2 separate regions of the Homo sapiens genome follow, and region 1 is linked to region 2. Evidence: fine-mapped expression QTL. Tissue or cell type: sun-exposed skin. Region 2 holds a variant in brackets; the other region holds the start of a gene. All regions are shown on one strand. Distances are from middle to middle.

Region 1 (10,429 bases), 100 kb before region 2:
CTCACTGCCACCTCCACCTCCTGGGTTCAAGTGATTCTCCTGCCTCAGCCTCCCAAGTAGCTGGGATTACAGGCGCCCACCACCATGCCCAGCTAATTTTTGTATTTTTAGTAGAGACAAGGTTTCACCATGTTGGCCAGGCTGATCTCAAATTCCTGACTTCAGGTGATCCACCCGCCTCAGCCTCTCAAAGTGCTGGGAATACAGGTGTGAGCCACCGTGCCCACCTAGAAAACTTTTACATACTTTCTCCTCTCTTTGAACATGTGTAAATCCTTTTGAAACTAGATAGGCTTTTTGTCAGCTTTATGAGCTAAGCTAGTCTTTCCCAAGGACCTGGGCGTCATCTCTTTGAAATGTAAACAAACCTAAGGGAGATAGTGCTTCTATCTCTTAGTTTCTGTGGGAAGGTATGAGCCTAACTGAAGAGCCTTGCTCAGTGCTGCAAAATTACCCCTTGTCTTAAAGATAAATTTGATTTTCCTCTGGGTAGAGCCAGTTAGCTAACACAAGTGGTTACCCTAATTACCAGGTAAATTTAGAGTGAACCATGTACGGCAAACGGTGCTGGCAAGACCTCTTACTTGAGGAACAGTTATTGTTTGCCTTGATAACATGTATGTAACAGGTTGTATCTACTTGGCTATACAAAAGGGGGAGATTTCTTTCTGTTCTTGCAACCTCTTAGTAGATGGCCTATAATGCTCTGCATATTTTGGTTTACTGCTTATTCCATAATAAAACTGTTCTTTCTCTACTCCTTTTGTGGAGAGAATCTCTGTGTTGAAAGAAGACTTTGTTAATTATATTTCACCAATACTAGGCACTGTGCTAGATTCTGTAGAGGCAAAAGTGTTTAAGATACAGTTCCTAGAAGTGTTTATTATTGCTCAGTAACAGAATATAAGAAAAGTCATGGGAAGCCCAAGGATTGAACCTCTATATCTGTCTCCTTAAAAACTGGGGGAGGGTGATCAAGAGGATATCACAAAAAAAAAAAAAAAAATCTGCCGTTTGAGCTGATGTTTTAAGGATGGGGAAAGTCTTCCAGGTTGACCAAGATGGAGGTGGCAGTGAATAGTGGGTGGGCTTTGAAGACAAAGGCACAGAGGGTCTGAGCATAGGAAGGTTTCCTGGGGCCAAGGCCAGGCAGAGGGAAATAGGAACAGAAGGCAGTGAAGATGGTGGAGTTGGGAGGAGCCCACATGCTCCCAGAGTGTTCAGGAAAGTCAGTTTAGGCTGAGTGCAGGGCTTCGGGGAAGGATGCAGAGAAAGCCAAGGCTGAAAAGGGAGAAGAGGGACATAGAGAGGGGTCTGAAATTCCACACTAAGTAACTACAAGGAAAAATGATGAAAGACTTTGAAATAGACACACACTGAAGATTACTGGGAGTCCTTTCTGGCATACTCTTTGGGGCTACCTCCCCCTTTTATTGCCTGAGCTAATTTTACAGCACCGTAGGTTATAGCAGATAGCAGTGCAAATGACTCTTGCTCATGGAAATACAAATTTTGTCTAGTGGAGATGCACTGGATTAAGTGCCCTGTAGATATGGACCAATTGTGCCTTTATCTCTAAATTCATCTCAGTATTTCTGGAAGCATCTCACCCATGCTGTTGGTTTGGCTGTAGACTGCTAATTCTCCTTGCTGCGTAGGATTCCACTGTGTGACTAGTCCATGATTTATTGCCATTTCTACTGCTAATGCACACATAGGTGGCTTTCAGTTTGTTGCTAGTTTGGACAATGTTGCCGTGAAAATTTTTGTGCATGTACATCTCCTACAACGTGGATGCATTTTAAAAGTTTAGTCTTGAGCCAAACCAAAAAGTATGAATCCAAATATGAAGATCAAAAATAGGCAAAGCTAAGCTATATTGTTTAGGGATGATATTTAGATTCAGTCAAACTATAGGGAAAAGCAAGGAAGTGATCACCATAGAAGTCAGACTTGTGGTTCTTTGTGGGAGAGGAAGAGGCTGTGGTCAGGAAGGGACATGAGAGAGGCTTCTGGGGTTCTCTTTCTCAGCCTGGATGGTAGTAATGTGGGAAATTAAATCTAATACTTTGCTAACCCAGACATTGTTCTTTCAGTGTGTTGTATTTTGCAATAAACAAAATACAACACACTGAAAAGAGACTTTCCATTTTCTCCTTAAGCACACTTTAAGGGGAAAACAAAGGTGGTCTAGGAAGATGTTTAAAGACATATGATACAGCTTTTCTTCCTTACTCACAAGCTAAAAAGCTGCACTTTGGCCAAACAAGATGAGGGGGTCGAAGCATCAGCTGTGGCCAGCGTGCCGTGAGAATCCCACCTGTGAAGCAGCCAGCAGATTCTGAGCCCCTCAAGAGGGCAGGTGGGATCAAGGTTCAGCTAGAAGCCCCAACTTTCCCCTGGCTCTTCTGGGCAGAGTGAGTGATGCCAGAGAGCCCAACTTCTCGGAATGCCTGGGCTGTGCTGCTAGGAATCAGAACAAGTCCTTGGGAAAGGCAGCCAAGATCTGGATTCTGCCATTCTGGTTCCACTCCCTCCTATGACCGTGACCTGCTGTGGAGCAGCAGAAGTTCCCCTCCTTGTTCAGCTCCTCCATTACAGGTGCTGGTTCCAAACGTCTCTGGACTCAGGATACTGGGTCAGAGGCTGGGGCTGGGGAGGAGCAGTTGGATGCCTGGATCCCAAGAAGGAGGTTTTTTGAGGCTAGGGTCTCTGGCTAGGGAGAACCATACCTGACATTGCCACTGTGCCATAGCTGCCTAGGGCCGGGCAGGCTTCCTCCTGGGATGGGGTGGGGTGAGGAAGGGGATAGACGATCGTCCTGACTGGGTCAGCTCTAATACGTTCTTTGCTTTCCTGCCCCTACAGCTCTGGATTCTTCACAACCTCATTCAATAGTAGTCAGTGTTTTTCAGGTATCCAAACTTTCTGAGGCTCAGTTTCCTCATGACAACAACATATATCGTTTCTTGAGCATCAAAGATGGGTCAGGCAGTGTGTTTGGGACTTCCTATACCATGCCTTTAATCCTTGCAGAAAGTTGACACATACCCATTACATGGCTTCAAAGGCTGATGGACAATCTCCATTTTAAAAGCAGGAAACAGACTTAGCAAGCCCAGTGCACAGTCACCAAGTGCAGAGCCAGGACTTCATTCCTGACTTCATTCCTTCATTCCAAAGCCAAGCTGCCTATGTCCCCATCTGTGAAGTGGGGCCAGCTGAGGAGCAGGGTTCAGGAGCAGACTTTGTGGAGACTGGCACGTGGCTGATGGATAGTAGGTGCTCCCATCCCAGAGGTGTGGCAAGTGCCAGGTAAGCCTGAGCACTAAGAAGAACCACACTGAAGTTGGGCTGAGACTATTTCCTGCCCTGCCTTCCTTTGTGAAAATAAAGCCAAGCAAAGAGGAAGATGAAAGAATCCACCCTAGCCTTCCTGAGCCCATTTCTCATTCCCAGGGGTTTTGAACCCCAATCCACTGCCCCCATTCCCAACCCACAGTGGTCCTCAAGGCTCTCCAGCACAGGTCCGTCACCCACCCTGCCTCCTCTCAGGAAACCCAGCTCCCTCCAAAGCGCCCTCTGGGCCTGGGATGCCCTGAGCAATGCAAGCTTTCTTGCCTGCTTTCACGTGGTTCAATTTTCCTTTTTTTTTGGCTCAATTTTTTTCTGCCTCAAGTTTTCTACCTCAAGTATTTCAAAAATTAATTTTTTTTTCTTTTCTTTTTTTTTTTTTTTTTTGTGGAGTGGGTGTTGAAAGAATCCTAAACTTTCTTAGCCATTCTCTGGACTGAGCTATAAACTCACAAAGCAAGGATTGCAGGCTCTGTGAGGCTGTGATTGCCAGAGGCAAGGCAAGAGAAATAACAAGCCGTGGTCAGTCCTCAGCTGGGGCCTCTGATGGATTTCCTCCTGTCTTGCACTCATAATTTCTTTCTGAAGACCATGTTTTCCACCCACACAAACCTGAGCCTGAGTATCCTCACAATGGTTATAACAACATATATCAAAATTGAACACTAAATTTGTGCCAGGAATTTATTAATGGAGAAACCCCGCCTCTACTAAAAATACAAAATTAGCCGGGCGGTGGTACATGCCTATAATCCCAGCTACTTGGGAGGCTGAGGCAGGAGAATCACTTGAACCCAGGAGGCAGAGGTTGCAGTGAGCCGAGACTGTGCCATTGCACTCCAGCTTAGGCAACAAGAGCAAAACTCCGTCTCAAAAAACAAAACACAAACAAGAAAGAAAACCCAAAAAACAAAAAACAAACAAAAACCCATAGATGGTACAAAAAGTGGAAGAAAAAGGAAAAAAAAACCCATGAAACTATCTGCAATGCAGTTTCCTAGAATCAACCACAGTAATCTTTTAGCTTTTCTCTATCTAAATGTTATACATATTTTATATTTATATTAAGTGCATTTATATTTATATTAAAATACAGATACAAATTTAAAAACTCTTTATTATTAAATTTTCAAATAAAAAGCAACTTTTCAAATAAAAGCAGCGAGAACCTCCTTATACCCAACACCTGGCTTCAACTATTAGCAACCCATGGTCAATATTTCCTCTATTTCCCACTTAATGTCTCTACTGAATTATTTAATTTCACCCATAAACACTTGTGTGCATCTCTAAAAGTTAAGGACTCTTTTTTGAAAAAGACTTTAATACAATTTCTCATCTCAAAAAATTAGCAATAATTCCTCAACAGCATCCAGATGCAATTTTTCATGCTTTTTTCAGTTAGTTTAAAATCATGAGCTTTTCTCCATGTCTCTAAAATGTAATTACTAATGCTTCTAATACTATTCCACCAGGTTGAGTGTATTATAAATGATCTGATCACCCCTTGCCTCCCACTCTTCCATCCCCTTGGACATATTTAGGCTACAACATCCCCAGGAAAATGGTTTCCATTGTCTGCACGTAAGCAAACAGGCATTATTAACCTATTAGCTGTCCACTGCTCCACCCCACCCACAGGTACCCAACTAGTCCTGTGCACCTACCTGGCGTGGACTGCCAAGGGAACCTCTGGATCTGCCAGTCAGCCACCCTGTCCTGCTCAGACTTTACCAGAGACGAGTATTTCCCTTTCCTTCCCTCTAAGAGCATTTTATTTGCAGAGTTAGCCAATAGTATCTTGTTTCCTGTAAGGGAGACTATCTTTAGATGCTGCCACAGGCAAGCTCAGATACTCCAGGGTGGAGGCCAGCTGCCAACAGGAGGGCCTGACTTTATAAACCTGGAAGATCTAAACCTCAGGGAAGACTGCGGAGCTGGAGGGAGAGAGGTGCCACTTACCCCAACCTGGAGGTGGGGGGCAGGGAGCAGGCCCTGCAGTCAGCAAAGCACAGCACAGTCAGCTCTCATTAATGGGGAGCCTTCAGGAAGCTGGGAGAGCTCATGGGGCCCTCAGCTTCCCTGCCCACGAGAGGGAGCCCAGAGTACTCACTGGACCACACTGGGGCACACACAGCTCTTCTCCTCAAAGTGCAGTCCCAGGCACTGGGAGCTTATTAAAGACAGCACCTCAAGCCCTGCCCTATATCTGCTGAATTAGAATCTGCATTTTAATGAAATTCTTAGAAGAGTGATATGCATACTAAGTTTGAGAAGCTTTGGTACTGAAGGCATCTAGTGAGTACCTTGCACCTTGTAGATGCTCGGTAAATATTTTTTTCCTCACCTCTCTGCCCCAAGGCATTTAGTGGCTCCCTATACCCATCAGTCAAGGCTGAGGACACAGCTTTCACCCAGGACCTGGCCTATGCTCCTTTCACAGTCTCTCCCCCTGCCACTCTTGCCCTGCAGTGGGGAGCCTGGTGGGCTCCGGCATCCAGCCATGCTTCTGCTCCCTGGCCTGGCCAGCTTGGGGCGACTGCAACGTGAATCTCAACTGCCACTGCCTCATCACCTTCCGATCACTTCATTACCTGCCTGACCCCTGGCATATGCTATATAATTCTGATCCATCCCTAACTAGGGCCTGGCCCATGGTGGCCTTCAATACACCTTCATTAAATGGTCTGTGACCCCTTCAAGGCCCCTCTGGCCCCTTGCTGCCCACATCCCAGCCACATCCGGTGCTCCCTTACCTCTAGTCGCTGTGGTGTTCCGAGGACAGCGGGTGCTCTGTGTGCTCCCCACCTTGCCCCTCCTCACCTCCCCCAACCCCAGGACAGAGCTGGGGGCTGCAGTGCAGTGCTGCGGGCTTGGTGGCCTGCTCATGGTGGAAGAAGTCCACCAGCAGTTTTCTTTCTTTGTTCTTGGTCTCAGTGTTTGGCCACCTTTCCCTGCCTTTGGCCAGAAGGCCACAGGACAAAAGCAGAGTCAGGCCGCTCCCCATCCACTTTCTGACACTGGCCCCTCCCCACCCCACACCACCCCTTGATACCTCTCCTGGGGTCCACTCAGCTGGGCTGGCTGCCTCAGCCCCTTCCTTGCCTCTGACTCCCCTCCTCTTCTGAGGGCTCCTTTCTTGGATCTGGCCAAGACTCTCCCTCTCTTCCTGTCCCACACTCTTGACGACAGTCTCATCCACCCCACATCAGTAATCCCCTCCGTGTTCATGAGCACACATCTCTACCTCCATCCAGGGCCTGGATAATTTCCCAAGCCCATCTAACCTTCTCCGTTCTCTGTCTTTCCTCTCACCACTTACCCCACTGGCCATTCTCCACCCAGAAGCCAGAGAGCTCTTCCTGAAATCCAAGTCTGCCAACTTAAACGCCTCCAGGGGTTCTCTCATCCTGGTTTAAGTCCACGGCCTGGTAAGCACGGCCCGCCCCTTCTCACTTCCTACTGTGCTCTCACCACTTCCACTTCCCCCAACATGCCTGTGCCCGTGGCAGGCTCTCTTCCCTTCCCAACTCACCTGGCTGTCCTGTCCAGGACGTGATTTTACCCTCTTTTAAAGCTAACGGCTATGTTCCACAGCTGCTAGCAGCACAGGGCTTCATGCTTGGCAAGCATGAGAACCAGCGTCCAGTGTCAGTTGCCTTGCCCCCAAGCCCCACAGAGTGATGCCATGGCTTGGATAGATACCTGTGAATGTGTGAGGGATGGGGAGGTTATAGGAAGGGAACTCTGACCTTGGGTAACGTGCCATTTTATAGCAAGCAGTAAGCAAGTCGGTTATTTGGCCCTGAGCGAGATGTCAGCTCATCCTTCAAGGTTGCTCACTGCAAACTCAACCCTGCAAGATGGACCAAGTGAAGAGCATTAGTGCTTTGCATTCTTGACACACTCATGGAGACAGAAAGAGCCTTGGCAGCCTTCCCCCTCCCTCCACGCCTCCTTGGGCCTCTGTAAAGGAGTCTCTGGCTCAGCGCTGGGAATTCTCTCCTCCCTGAACTCTTGTTCAACCCCTCCCCCGTACTCTCACTCTGGTACAGCCTTATTCCTTAGATCCCCGTCTTCATCTCTCTTTCTGCCCAGCCCCTTTGGCTTCACTCTCTGTTGGAGCTGACCCTTGTTCACAAGTTCTTTGTCATTCTGCATTTCTCTTCCAGTTGAGACAGTAAATGCAGAGGACAGTTTGGTTTCTGCTGGGCAGAGAAATGAGAGTGTGGTGGGCTGGCTCAAAGGCAGGAGGCCAGACAGAGAGGCTGTGAGGATGGTGGGGACACCCTGGACAGTGATGGGTGTCCCCACCCATCACTGCAGGCACCCATCACACAATGCAGGCAAGGACTGGAGACTTGGTGTGAATAAAGCTTTGTGGGAATGTGGGGTAGAGATGCAGAAAAGGAGAGTGAGAATGTGATTCACCTTAATTGCCAAACCAAGATACTTCCATGTTCTTCTGTGGGCCCTGGAGAAATTTGGGAATAATTACATAAGCAGTTGTGCAGCACTAGGTCTGCCTGAGGCAATGTCCTAAGTCCTCGATGTACATGAACTCATGTAGTGCCCCCAGTGACCCTATGATGCAGGTGCTAATGTTTTTGTTTTTGTTTCTTTCAGACAGGGTCTGGCTCTGTTATCCAGGCTGGAGTGCAGCCACATGATCATAGCTCACTGCATCCTTGATCTCCTGGGCTCGAACGATCCTCTCACCTCAGCCTCCCAAGTAGCTGGAACTACAGGCACACATCACCACACCCAGCTAATTTTTGTATTTTTTGTAGAGACAGAGTTTCGCCATGTACCCAGGCTGCTCTTGAACTCCTGAGTTTGAGTGATCCTTCTGCCGCAGCCTCCCAAAGTGCTGGGATTACACGTTTAAGCCACTGTGTGTGGCCGCAGGTACTATTATTATCCTCATCTTATATGTGAGGAGTTTGAGACAAGGAGGAGAAGTTATGTAACTTGTACAAGACCACACAGCTCATGTGTGGTAGGGCCAATATTTGAACTTAGCATTGAGGTTTTATGGTCTATGCTGTGCATTCTTAGTAGAGGTGGTATTACTTCCAAGGTGGCGAAAATTGGTTCTGGAAGGTTCTTGTGCTTTATGTATAAAACACAGATATACATATAGTAGCTAAACCAATAGCATATCTGTGGAATAAAATTCCATGGTAGGGGGAGGTGAGTAAGAATGTAATGTGGGCCAGGCATGGTGGCTCACGCCTGTAATTCCAGCACTTTGGGAGGCCAACGTGGGTGGATCACGAGATCAGGGGTTCAAGACCAGCCTGGCCAAAATGGTGAAACCCTGTCTCTACTAAAAATATAAAAATTAGCCAGGCGTGGTGGCGGGTGCCTGTAATCCCAACTACTTGGGAGGCTGAGGCAGGAGAATCGCTTGAAACCGGAAGGTGGAGGTTGCAGTGAGCCGAGATAGCGCCACTGCACTCCAGCCTGGGCGAAAGAGCGAGACTCCATCTCAAAAAAAAAAAAAAATTATATATATATATATATATATATATATATATATATATATATATATAATGTGGTTAATAGGCACAAAAAATACTTAGAATAAATAAGACCTAGTATTTACAAGCACAACAGGGGCACTATAGTAAAAAAAATTTAATTTACCTTTACAAATAACTAAAAGAGTATGATTGGATTGTGTGTAACACAAAGGATAAATGCTTGAGGTGATGCATACCCCATTTCCTCTGATGTGATTATCACACGTTACATGCCTGTATCAAAGCATTTCATGTAACCTACAAACATATACACACGCTATGTACCCCGCCACACACAAAAGAATATAATATCTAAAAGGACTTGTTGGGGAGTGATTAAAAAAAGCTGAGAAACCATTGTCTAAGTTTTTTTTTTTTGTTTGTTTGTTTTTAGACAGGATTTACTCCCATCACCCAGGCAGAAGTGCTGAGGTCCGCCTCCTGGGTTCAAGCTATTCTTCCACCTCAGCTTCCCGAGTAGCTGGGATTACAGGAGCCTGCTACCACATCTGGCTAATTTTTGTATTTTTAGTGGAGATGGGGTTTCACCACGTTGGCCAGGCTGGTCACGAACTCCTGACCTCAAGTGATCTGCCCACCTTGGCCTCCCAAAATGCTGGGATTACAGGCGTGAGCCACTGCGCCCAGACAAGAAACCCTTGTCTAAGGTCTTAATCAGACCACTCTGCTACCTCCCAGTTTAAAGTCTGGGGATTAGAGGGTGACATGACAAAAGTAGTCTCTTCAGAAAAATCAATCAATGGGTGGGTGTGAGGGAAACGGCTGCATAAAAGGGAAGGAAAAGACGTACATCAAGGACTTCTCCATGCCAGGCCCTGTGCGAGGCACATTGTCCATTATATCTCTTTTTTACTTTCACTTTCTAGTCAGGTATTATTTTTTCCATTTTCAGATGATGAAATGGGGAGAAAAGAGCAATGAGTCCTAGGCCACACAGCTGAAAAAGGGTCAAGTCAGGATTGGAACTTCCTGCCCAGATGCAGGCAGGGAACAGCAAGAGGGGAGCCAAAGCAGTGGGTGGTGGAAGACGGAGAAGGGATCTCGCTACAGGAAAATGCATAGAATTGTAAAGGACCAGACACGTTGAGGGTCAAGTGAGCATCCAAAGGCTGTGTTGCCATTGACAAGTCGAAAGCAATATGCTGGGAGATTTCAGAAGCAGAAAAAAAGTCTCTCTTTCCTCTTCTACCCTAAGAGGACAAAAGATCTTCTCCCTCTAAGAGGAGAAAAGATCAGACTTAGAAAATTAGAGGCCAATAGAAAATTGGAGGTGGCTCATGCCTGTAATTCCAGCACCTTGGGAGGCCAAAGTGGGAAGATCATTTGAGTCCAGGAGTTCGAGACCAGCCTGGGCAACATAGGGAGACCTCATTGGTACAGAAAAAAAAAAAAAAAAAAAAATAGCTGGGCATGGTGGTGCCGACCTGTAGTCCCAGCTATGGGAGGCTGAGATGGGAGGATCACTTGAGCCCAGGATTCAAGGGTGTAGTGAGCAGTGATCCTGCCACTGTACTCCAGCCTGGGTGAAA
Region 2 (10,429 bases):
GGTGTATTTGTCAGGGAAATATGTGTCCTGATTTTCTTTCATCCAGATTATGAAAGATAATCTCCTTTACTTAAAGTCAACTGATTACAGAGGTTAACCACATCTACAAAATACCTTCACAGCAACACCTGGATTAGTGTTTAATTGAAAACTGGGTATTATAGCCTAGCCAAGTTGACACATAAAACTGACTGTTACACAAGATGCTGCTTATAAATGAAGTCATTCTGTCCAAGATAAAGAAAAGCTGGCCTGGCATGGTGGCTCATGCCTGGAATCCCAGCACTTTGGGAGGCCAAAGTGGGCGGATCACCTGAGGTCGGGAGTTTGAGACCAGCCTGACCAACATTTTGCTAATTTTGCTAAATGCAAAATTAGCCAGGCGTGGTGGCGCATGCCTATAATCCCAGCTACTCAGGAGGCTAAAGCAGGAGAATTGCATGAACCCAGGAGGCGGAGGTTGTGGTGAGCCGGGATCGCAGCATTGCACTCCAGCCTGGACAACGAGAGTGAAACTCTGTCTCCAAAAAAAAAAAAAAAAAAACCTTCCACATATGGATAGAGCTATAAGCAAACCACAAAACCACAAGTGGGTCCTGCTTACCCCTGTGGGAAATTCAGATCAATCAGGACCTAGAAGATTTGTGACCAGAAAATATGTGCTTATGTTTATAAACTTTTAGCCAAAATGTTGCCCGTTTCCTCATTGTGAAGAAAGCAGGAAAACAAGAAGAGTTTGATTTTTTCCATAAGATGGGGAACTGCTTTGTCAAAATATTGATGGAGTGACTTGTGGCTTCCATATGACAAAACACAAAACACCACACTGCCTGGGCACGCACCATGGCTCCTCTCCCTTCCACTGCCCCTAACAACTTGGTCCTTGGAGTAGAATGTGAAGATCCCACTCCTGCAGGAACGCAGTCCACCCCACAGAGCCATCTGCCCCTCCCTCGGATACCAGCTTGTAAGCCGCTCTAACTCATTGTTCTCTCGTAGCCTGGTCACCCTTGGCTCAGGGGTGAGGTTACAGGCAATAGTCACTGGCACAGAAGGAAGAAAGGTGTTTCCTTCTTGTGAAGCCAAAAGCAGTGACAGGACCATCCTCTTTGTGGAAGTTTCTGGGTAAAGCCATTAGAATTCCCTTTTTTTCTGCAGTATTCACCCATTCTTGTGATCAGGCAAAGAGTGGCTTCCCCCACTGGTGAAGACAGTGCCCTTGGAGACTCTTAAGGCTTCTCTTTCAGGTTGTGCATGTTTAGGATGGGAGCAGATATTCAGATGGAGAGGAGCCTCCATTAGTTACAGGACGAAGACTATCATAAGATGCCCATTAGACCTGAGAGGCCAGTAGGCATAGAGAGACTGATGAAGATGGGCGGTAAGGGAGGTTGTAGCAGAGAGAATGCATGGTATCTCCCCTCTCAATCCCCTATTGGTTTCCAAAAGGCAAAGGCTGGCCTCATTGTTTTGGCATCAGTAGAAGAGAAAATTTAGATATTTCCAGAAGCAGCTCTGGCTCCAGGCAGGTAGAAAGATCTTGCTGAGCTGGTCTGCTGGAAACATGGAGGTGGGGGCAGTGATTTACCTGTGTGCTTTTCACCATTCCAGCCATCTTCTTACAAATGAAGTGACGCAGATGCAAGGTGCTGCAAGGCCCACCTCCTCCTGCTCTGACAGGCAGACAGGAAACCAAAGCCCCTATCTGAGCAGCCTCTGTCTCTCCCATTCACCTCCAGCTTCCCATGTGGACCTTTGCCTTTTCCTTCTTGGATGGTGGAAACTCCTCCAGATGTCAAGACTTGCTGTGAATAAAGTTTTAAGAGGAGGTCATGTATCCAAACTGATACATGTGTATTTCTTCCTGGGTAGAGGGTGTCTACAATCCTTGGGATGGGAAAACATCATGTAACCTGATCATACAATCCAGAAAACATGGGCCACTTTGGATCTTTGAGGGACCAGTGTGTAATTGAGGGAAGTTAGGTCATAAGAGCCAAATCACCTTCCCTTGACTGCAGATAAATCCATTAAGGCTTGCCTTATGCTAATGACCTTGTTTTGAATTAAAGTCACAATGTTTTCTTTTTAAAAAAAAAAATTCACTCCTCCAACTTTGCCATTAAGTACTGCTCCAAACCCCCCACTCATCTGCCAATGGGTGATGCTCTTTCCCCATGATCATTATATATCTCTGCATCCCCACAAACATCCAGGGGAGGAGATGTGGGAAAAGAAGGGCCTGTGGGCTTTAGAGTTATGAGTAAGCATGGCAGGAGCAGATACAGAGGAGGGAAATCTGCCAGCTGCCACCCTTGAAAGCCAGCCCATTTCTTCTGAGCCCACAGCCAAGCAGGCATACCTGGAAGGGTGAGGGAGTGGAGGGCCGGCTTTCACTCTAGATCCCACCTGTGTTCCCACACCCAGAGTGGCCAAGAGCAGTCTCTAAAATACGCCAACCCATGATTTCTCAAAAGTAGGGATTCTTGTCTTATGGAATCAGTGCAGCGGGGGTGGGTGTCAGGGTGGAATTAGGTCTTCCTTTAAAAAGAAGTTTCAGTGCATAGTTATCAACATCACTACTGCACAAAGAAAAATAAGCCTTGCAGCTTAGAACAAAGGGTAGCAAAGTATTCAATCACCAGGCAGGTTTGTAATTTTGTTTCGTTTTGTTTTTTGAGATGGAGTCTCGCTCTGTCGCCCAGGCTGCAGTGCAGTGGCACGATCTCGGCCCACTGCAAGCTCCACTTCCTGGGTTCACGCCATTCTCCTGCTTCAGCCTCCCGAGTAGCTGGGACTACAGGCGCCTGCCACCACACCCGGCTATATTTTTAGCAGAGACGGGATTTCACCATGTTAGCCAGGATGGTCTCGATCTCCTGACCTCGTGATCGGCTCGCCTCGGCCTCCCAAAGTGCTGGGATTACAGGCGTGAGCCACCGCACCCGGCCTGTAATTTTTTTTTTTTTTTTAATGTTTATACTTTCCTTAATCCTTTCTGGGAATAACCTCCTCTGGGACCACTTTCCTTCCTGTTCTATGTACCTCAGAAGCACAGGAATGAAGCCTGAAAAAATATTATCTTGCTCCCTAAGTCACTTTCCTTTCTGATCTAGTTCTTGGGTGATGAATGAAGGTGGAAAGTAGCGAAGGTTGCTATGAAAAGCTTGGACTTTATTACCAGGGCCACTGCATTTTCAACAGGAGTGTCAGGATCCCAGCAGTAATGCTTTTCCATGGATCAGCCAGACAGGCATAAGGGGAAGTTGGGAGACCAAAAAAGCCATTGACAGATTCCAGGTGAGCAATAAACCAGAATTTTGACCAACTAGACCAGCGCTGTCCTACAGAAATGTAATGGGAGCCACATGTTAAAGTTTAAATGTTTTACTAGCCACATTTAAAAAGAAACACATGAAGTTATTATTATTTGTTTTAGAGACGGGGTCTTGCTTTGTCGTCCACGCTGGTCTCCAACTCCTTGGCTCCCTCAAGCAATCCTCCAGACTAGGCCTCACAAAGTGCTGAGATTACAGGCCTGGGCCACTGCCCCCGGCCTGAAGTTAATTTTAATATTTCACCTAACCCAATATATCCAAAATATCATTTCAACATATAAAAATTATTGAGATTTTACCTCACCAGTCTTAGACATCCAGCGTGTGGTTTATGCATACAGTACATATCAATTCCACACTAAATTTTCAGCATTTAAAGGGAAATATGGTCCTGAAAAAAAAACAACAAAACAAAAAAACGCCTGTTTAAGGAGAAAGCATTCCACACTGCTTGTTTTAATATAATTAAAATTAATGTATCAATTAATAAATCAATAGCCCACGTTGGCTAGTGGCTGCCTTACTGGGCAGACCAGGTCTGGATTGTAAATACGTTCAGACGTTCCACGCAAAAGCAAAGTTCCCTGCAGACGCTCCATTAAGTTCTGGGTGCAAGGAAGCGCGGATCCTTCAGTTCTGGGCGTTTTCACCAGGTGGCACTCAGAACACCCTCACGTGACAAGCGTCCCACCCGGAAGCGAAATCTCCCCTTCTACAGAGTTCCTCCGGCGCTTCCTCCACCCCGGGATACACAGAACCTCATCTCCTACGGTGCTGAAGCCTGCAGCAGGGCAGGATGGGCAGGAGAGCAGAGCCGCGGAGTCTGCGGCGCGGGTGAAGAGCGGCGCGTAATTCCCGCAGCAAGATTGTTCCGCGCCCGCAGCCCCTGGACTAGCAGGATCCGAACCCCGGCGGCTGCGTGCTTATAGGCGCAGACGTCAGAGAGCCCGCGGCTTAAAGCGCGTCGCCTGGCTAGCGCCACCCCCTAGCCTTCTTCAAGGCCTCCAGGGCTGGGCCCAAGCGCCCGTCGACGGCACCCTGGGCCCAGAGGACTCGCGGGCCTCATCTCCAATGATTCAGAACTCACGTCCGTCGCTGCTGCAACCCCAAGATGTCGGAGACACGGTGGAAACGCTTATGGTGAGGGCACTGCGGGGAAGGAAGGGCAGGGGTCCGAACCGCGGGCTCGGGCCGGAGAATTCGGGGCGTTGCTAAGGCTCGGCTACCCTTTTCCGCGCCCCAGGGTGCGCTCAGGATTTAGGATGCGGCGGGAGAGGAGTCTGACTAAGGGAATTGAGAAGGGGGCAGGGAGTGAGGAGAGGCCAGGAGCTGCAGGCCAGCCCTGGGGGCAGGCGCTGTAGGGCCGATGTCCCGGTAAAGGGCGGAATTGCCGGGGCCTGGACTGGACGCGTGCCGGGGAGTGTGCCCGCGCGGCCCCCACAAGGTGCGAGTAGGCTGCCAGGTGGAAGGGCACCCGGGCAGATTTGGGACGGTCACAAGGCCTGATAATAGCGCTGACGCTGAGAAGCCGTTGATGCCGCAGCGAGCTGGCCGGGTAGCGCTGTGCGCCCGCGGGCGGCGGCCTACCTGGAGGGGCCAGTCGTGGCGGCAC[C/T]CTTCCAGCCTGTTGGGACGGCGCGTGGTCCCCCAGCGACGCCACGCCTCCTCCGGCGTTCGATTGGTCATCGTGCCCGGGCCGCCGGGCCGCTATTGGTGGAGGCGGAGGCGGGGCTGGCGGCGTGGTTGCCCGGTAGGTGGAGTCGGGGTGCAACCAGTCTTTAGACGCTAAAGGCCTGAGGCCACTGCAGCTGCCGCAGCTCTCCCTCTGAGGTCTTGCGCCCGAGGTAGGGGCGGCTTTTATTTTTTTTTTTAATCCTTAAAGGCGGAGACGGCGGCGGTGGCGACTTTACGTTGACGTCTTTGAAAACCTGCTTACCTTTTTCAGGGCTCTCCAGCCCTCGCCTCCAGATGTGAATTGGACTTAGGATAGTTTTTTCAGGGCAGTAGGAATTGCTTGTGGATCCAGTTTGTACTCTTATGTGCTACTTATTTCGTGTGCGTATTATTGTTTATGCCCTCTTCTTTCTCCCCTTAAAAAGAAACTACTTTTTTATTTACCTTGAATATATTTTTGAGCTTTCTTTTCTTTTTTCTTTTTTTTTTTTTTTGAGACAGAGTCTCGCCCTGTCGCCCGCGCTGGAGTGCAGTGGCGTGATCTCGGCTCAACTGCAACCTCTGACTCCCGGGTTCAAGTATTTTTCCTGTCTCAGTCTCCCACGTTGCTGGGATTACAGGCGTGCGCCACCACGCCCGGCTAGTTTTTGTATTTTTAGTAGAGAGAGGGTTTCACCATGTTGGCCAGGCTGGTCTTGAACTCCTGACCTCAAGTGATCCGTCTGCCTCGGCCTCCTAAAGTGCTAGGATTACAAGTGTGAGCCACCGCGCTTGGCCTTGAGCTACTTTTTAAAAGTTAAGTTCACTCGCAAAGGATGTGTGCCATTCACCATTGACAAAAATCTTAAGACCATTCAGTATTACCTGTTGGGATGGTTTTTGTTGTTGTTGTTGTCTTGTTTTTGCCTATTAGAAGTTGATCTATACTGCTAGTATAAATAACATCTGCTCTGTGCTAATGGACTGGGAAAAGTACAAAGCTAAAAAAGTTATTGGCTCAATAACTTGAGCCAATAACATGTCTAATCACTGTGCTGTGAAATAAAAGACGTTAAGAAGATATTTCCTGCAATCAAGGGTGGGAAGGTCAAGGACAGCAGCAAATTTGTTTTAAAACAAATTCCACACAGCACCTGTGTGAGCACTGGGGAAGCAGCGCCTAACATAACTGCCCAGAAACTAACTGCAGGTCATTCCTATAGCCTTGCTGGAGCAAGGGGCCTGGAGAGAGGTGGGGGAGATTAACCCATCCTGGGATGAGTCATGCAGGGCCCACCGAGCCCTATCATGTGGGATTGTGCTCAAAGGGAGAGCATAAGGTTTCCTGTTAGGTGGTAAGATTCATTCCGCTGTCACTGCTGAACACCTACTGTGCACCAGGCTCCGAGGTCAGTTCTTGAGATATCACCATGAACAAGACAGGCAGGAGTTGTGACTATTCTGTCTTTGACACGCAGTCATAAGGGAGATGGGGACAGGTGTTGCTGTAGAAGCCGGAAGGAGAGGCACTGAACTTGGACATGGGGGAGTTAGGGAGCAAGACCGGTGCTAGGGCATAACAACATGTCAGAGTTTTCAGAGGTGAAAGTAAGGCGGAGTCCTCCAGTATGGCTGCAGAGTGTGTTAGTGGGAGGGTGAGAACATAGGCCAAAACGGTTAGCAGGAGCCCTGTGATACATGAAAGGCCCTGCAACCAGCAGTTTGGACTTTATCCTGAGAGGAATATGAACCAATTAAAGGGTATTGGTTTGGTTGGGTTTTTTAAAATTATAATTCAATTAGTATTAATGACAAATTTGTGGGATACTCTGTAGCTCCTAATACATTTGTCATTACTTGTATTTTTATTCCATCTTTTTTTTTGGTCTTGTTTTTAAGCTAGTAACTTCAAATTTCACAAAACATTATCTTTCATTGAAGGGTTTTATTTCTGAAAGCAGCATGATCAAATTTGCAGTTTTAAAAGATGACTCAGGCGGGGCATGGTGGCCCACACCTATAATGCTAACACTTTGGGAGGCAGAGGTGAGCAGATTGCTTGAGTCCAGGAGTTTGAGACCAGCCTGTGCAACATAGCGAAACCCCGTCTCTACAAAAAAATTAGCTGGGCACGGTGACACACACCTGTGGTCCCAGCTACTCGTGAGGCTGAGGTGGGAGGATCACCTGAGCCTGAGAGGTCATGGTTGGCAGTGAGCCATGATTGTGCCACTACACTCCAGCCTAGGCATCAGAGCAAGACCTTGTCTCTAAATAAATAATAAAACAGAAGATGACTATGGCTTCAGGGTAAAGAGTGGATTAGAGGGGTCATATAGATGACAAATGGGTAAAAAATTGGTGGCCGTCACCAAGGCAAGAGATAACAGGGTTCTCAGCTGGAATGGATTGGTGGATTTGAGAGCTGTTTTGGAGATAGAGTGAACAAGTGTGGAGAGGCCAAGTCCAAGGATGGTGCTCAGGTTTCTGGCTGGGGTGCTAGAGAAATGGCATGGCATTCACTGGGATGGGGCACCTTGGAGGAGGAGCTGGTCGGAGGTGTGGGAGAAAGGTAAGTTCAGGTTTGGAAACATCATCTGAGGTGGCCATCTGAGTACGTGGCTGTGTGAGACTGAGCTCCAGCGAGAGGCTGAGAGTGTGGAGGGGAGGGTGGAAATGGAACCCTTGGAAGTGGATGAAGAGCCATGGGAGTATGGTTCATTTAAGGGAGAGGCCAGAGAAGTGGGAGGAAACCCAGGACAGTATTAATCTCTGAAGCCAAAGGAAGAGAGCATTTCAAGGAGGGAGTGGTGGTGAATAGTGGAATGCACTGAGTGGCCTAAGTATCCTGGATTTTCACTTTAGACTGGGTGGTATGGTGAAAAGAGTATGAACTTTAAGTCCTGGCCAGTGGCTTCAACCCCTGTGACATAGGACACATTTGTAACCTCTGTGAGCTCCAGTTTAATCTGTAAAACGGGTTTAAAATACCTAGCTCATAAGATGCTATGAGATTTTGAGGTGGTGTCTATAGATGCCTCGCCCAGTGCTACTCTGGGAGCAGAGTGGAGGGTGGGTTGGCATAGTTGAGGCTGGAGACTGCTGCAGAGGTCATTAGGATGGATCAGTGGAGGCCAGACTGGGAAGATTGAGGGCTTGGTCAGTGGGACTTGGTCATGTAGCAGCAGGCATGGTGAGTTTTATGTGTCTCTGAGGTTTCCAACCTGGATTCCTGGAGTATCCCAGTGTGGATTGGAGAAGAGGCAAGTGTGTGGAGAACTGTTGACCAAGTTTCCATTTTGGACATGTTGAATTTGAGATGCCTGTGGGCCATTTGAGGGAAGACAAGGAGACATTAGCAGAGTCTGGGGAGAGGCCAGCCTGGGCTGGAGATGTGGGCATTACCAGCATGTGTGTGAAGCCTGGATATGGGTGAGGTTACTCTGAAAGGAGATAAGAGGAGCAGTCCTATGTGAAGGGCAGGCCAAAGAAGAGAAGGAGAGAGAAACCAGAAACTGTGAGGAGAGGCACTCAGCTATATGGCATGTACCAGAGAGGCCAAGTAAGATAAGGGCAGGGACAGGAACGGGGTCCTGGGGTGCAGCAGGTGCTTGGTGAGCCCTCAGAGGCTGTGTTAGTGGAGGAGATTTAGCTGGATAGCAAACTGGGGGGGCCTGCGGAGGGACTGGCACAGAGCAAGTGGAGATGGTGTAGCGTCAGGCTGGAAAGATGGATGCTTTGGAGCCTGTTGCCTGGCAGAAGAGGAGATGCCAGTGGGAGCGAGAGACCCAGTGTGTGAAGAAGGGGGGCTCATTAATGCCACAAAGTCTTGGGGAGAGACTAGAAACACAGAACTCATGAGAATATTGGTTGGCAGAAGAGCAGGACACCTCTTGGGGAGAGGGAGTTGATGTAGATACAGACTTGCTAAAATACGCACACCTTACTTGGTTTTACCTGTTGTCTTATCAGACCACCCTTTGGTACTTCAGAAGTTATTGCATCGTGGTTGTAAACTCCAGTTTTTAATGACCTTAGTTCCCCCCACCCCCTGCCTCCAACAGTCTTATGAGGAATTCCAGTTATAACTGGCTTCTTTGGTGGAATTTGAGATACACTCTCTTCTCTGTTAAGCAAATACTGCAGATTACAAATATTTCAGTTCCAGGTAAGTAGTTATGTGATGTGTAATGGAAACTTTATATATATTCATCTTAATGTTTTAGGGCCACAATGTGTCATTTATTTAAAAAATAATAGTGCAAATGCCACTTAATAAGGGAAGAGGTCTTTGGGGATGAATTTGCCAAACATTTTTGGAGAAGATAGCTATTTGTTTATTTATTTATTTATTTATTTTAGGGAAGGGGAAGAAGGTCACTGGTTGGATTTTAAGTACCTTTTCACAGTCATTTGTGATACTACTGGGTTCTAGGGGTCTGGAGAAAGGATGCTGTCCTGTAATGATAGCACCAGTGCTGGAAGCTGCAGCTCCTGGAACTAAGGGAGGTATATTTAGTCTTTGAAGGAGTTCCACCCTTCCAGGTGGTGTCTGTAGATTAGCCAGTGTATATGACGGTTCATGGGTTGAAGGAGAAGCAGCAAAGCCAGGGGAGGCTACTGGTCTGTAGGACTGTGTGATCTGCTTAGGGCCCAGTGAGATGGTAAGGGGAAAGTTTTAAATGAAGGAAATACTAGGTTCTACAGGAAGTGGCACTTACATTTTACACAGTGGTTGAGCTTAAGGTTTCATTTGCTTTGGCTTGGTCCTATAAATACCTATAGGTCTTAGAGCGAAGGGAGTCTGCACATCATCAGTTCAAAGTGAAAGCACTGCATTCAATTGACTTTGCTTTTGCAAAGATAGGGAGATGACCAGTAACTTTTTGAGTCAGAACAAATAGGGAAGAGTGGTCAGTGGCATGGAAATAGTTTTGCTCCCACTGAGCAATATGTCTATCAGCAATACGAAGACCAGAGATACCTCTTGCAGCATCCAATGTCCTCAATAACATTGCAGTATTTTTAATTTCTGGCTATACTTTTTCCTTCTCCGAGGTATGAAGAAAACATGAGGCACCACCAGGTAAGTGTCTAAGAGACCATTATAAAGGAATTTGCTGGTCAGGTATAGAGAAAGGTGAGGCTCACACAGGCAGAGCTACTGACACAATATTGTCTTATCCTGCAGTTACATCCGGTGATCAAGGCTTTCCTGTGTGGCTCCATCAGTGGGACCTGCTCTACCCTCCTTTTCCAACCTCTGGATCTCCTTAAAACACGCCTGCAAACCCTCCAGCCCTCAGATCATGGGTAGGCCCTGCATTTCATTGGGGAACTGATTTCAGCAACTTCTCAGACACAGGAACATCTTTACTGTGTTAAGTCAACTTCCATTCTGTTGGATGTTCAGAGAGAAACACAGGCCATGCCCAACTTTC

The links. PIP is the estimated chance that this variant, and not a neighbour inherited with it, causes the effect.
Region 1: it holds the start of CX3CR1, and the variant in region 2 is fine-mapped to the expression of CX3CR1 in sun-exposed skin (GTEx, PIP above 0.99).

The regions. Positions count from the first base shown.
Region 1 is chr3:39,274,933-39,285,361 of GRCh38, forward strand. CX3CR1 (C-X3-C motif chemokine receptor 1) reads right to left here and starts at 5,104. Exons shown (of 2, transcript NM_001337.4): 1 at 5,022-5,104.
Region 2 is chr3:39,379,316-39,389,744 of GRCh38, forward strand. It overlaps SLC25A38 (solute carrier family 25 member 38), which reads left to right and starts at 4,055. Exons shown (of 7, transcript NM_017875.4): 1 at 4,055-4,478; 2 at 10,180-10,301. The coding sequence starts at 4,410. It overlaps LOC105377644 (a long non-coding RNA gene), which reads right to left and starts at 5,010. Exons shown (of 3, transcript XR_007096252.1): 1 at 4,926-5,010; 2 at 3,638-3,729; 3 at 116-1,805. LOC105377037 (a long non-coding RNA gene) reads left to right here. Exons shown (of 3, transcript XR_001740661.3): 3 at 1,612-1,837. RefSeq lists enhancers at 4,364-4,543, 4,564-4,663, 4,674-4,723, 5,194-5,263 and a silencer at 4,954-5,103. The variant C/T (reference allele first, on the strand shown) is at 4,951.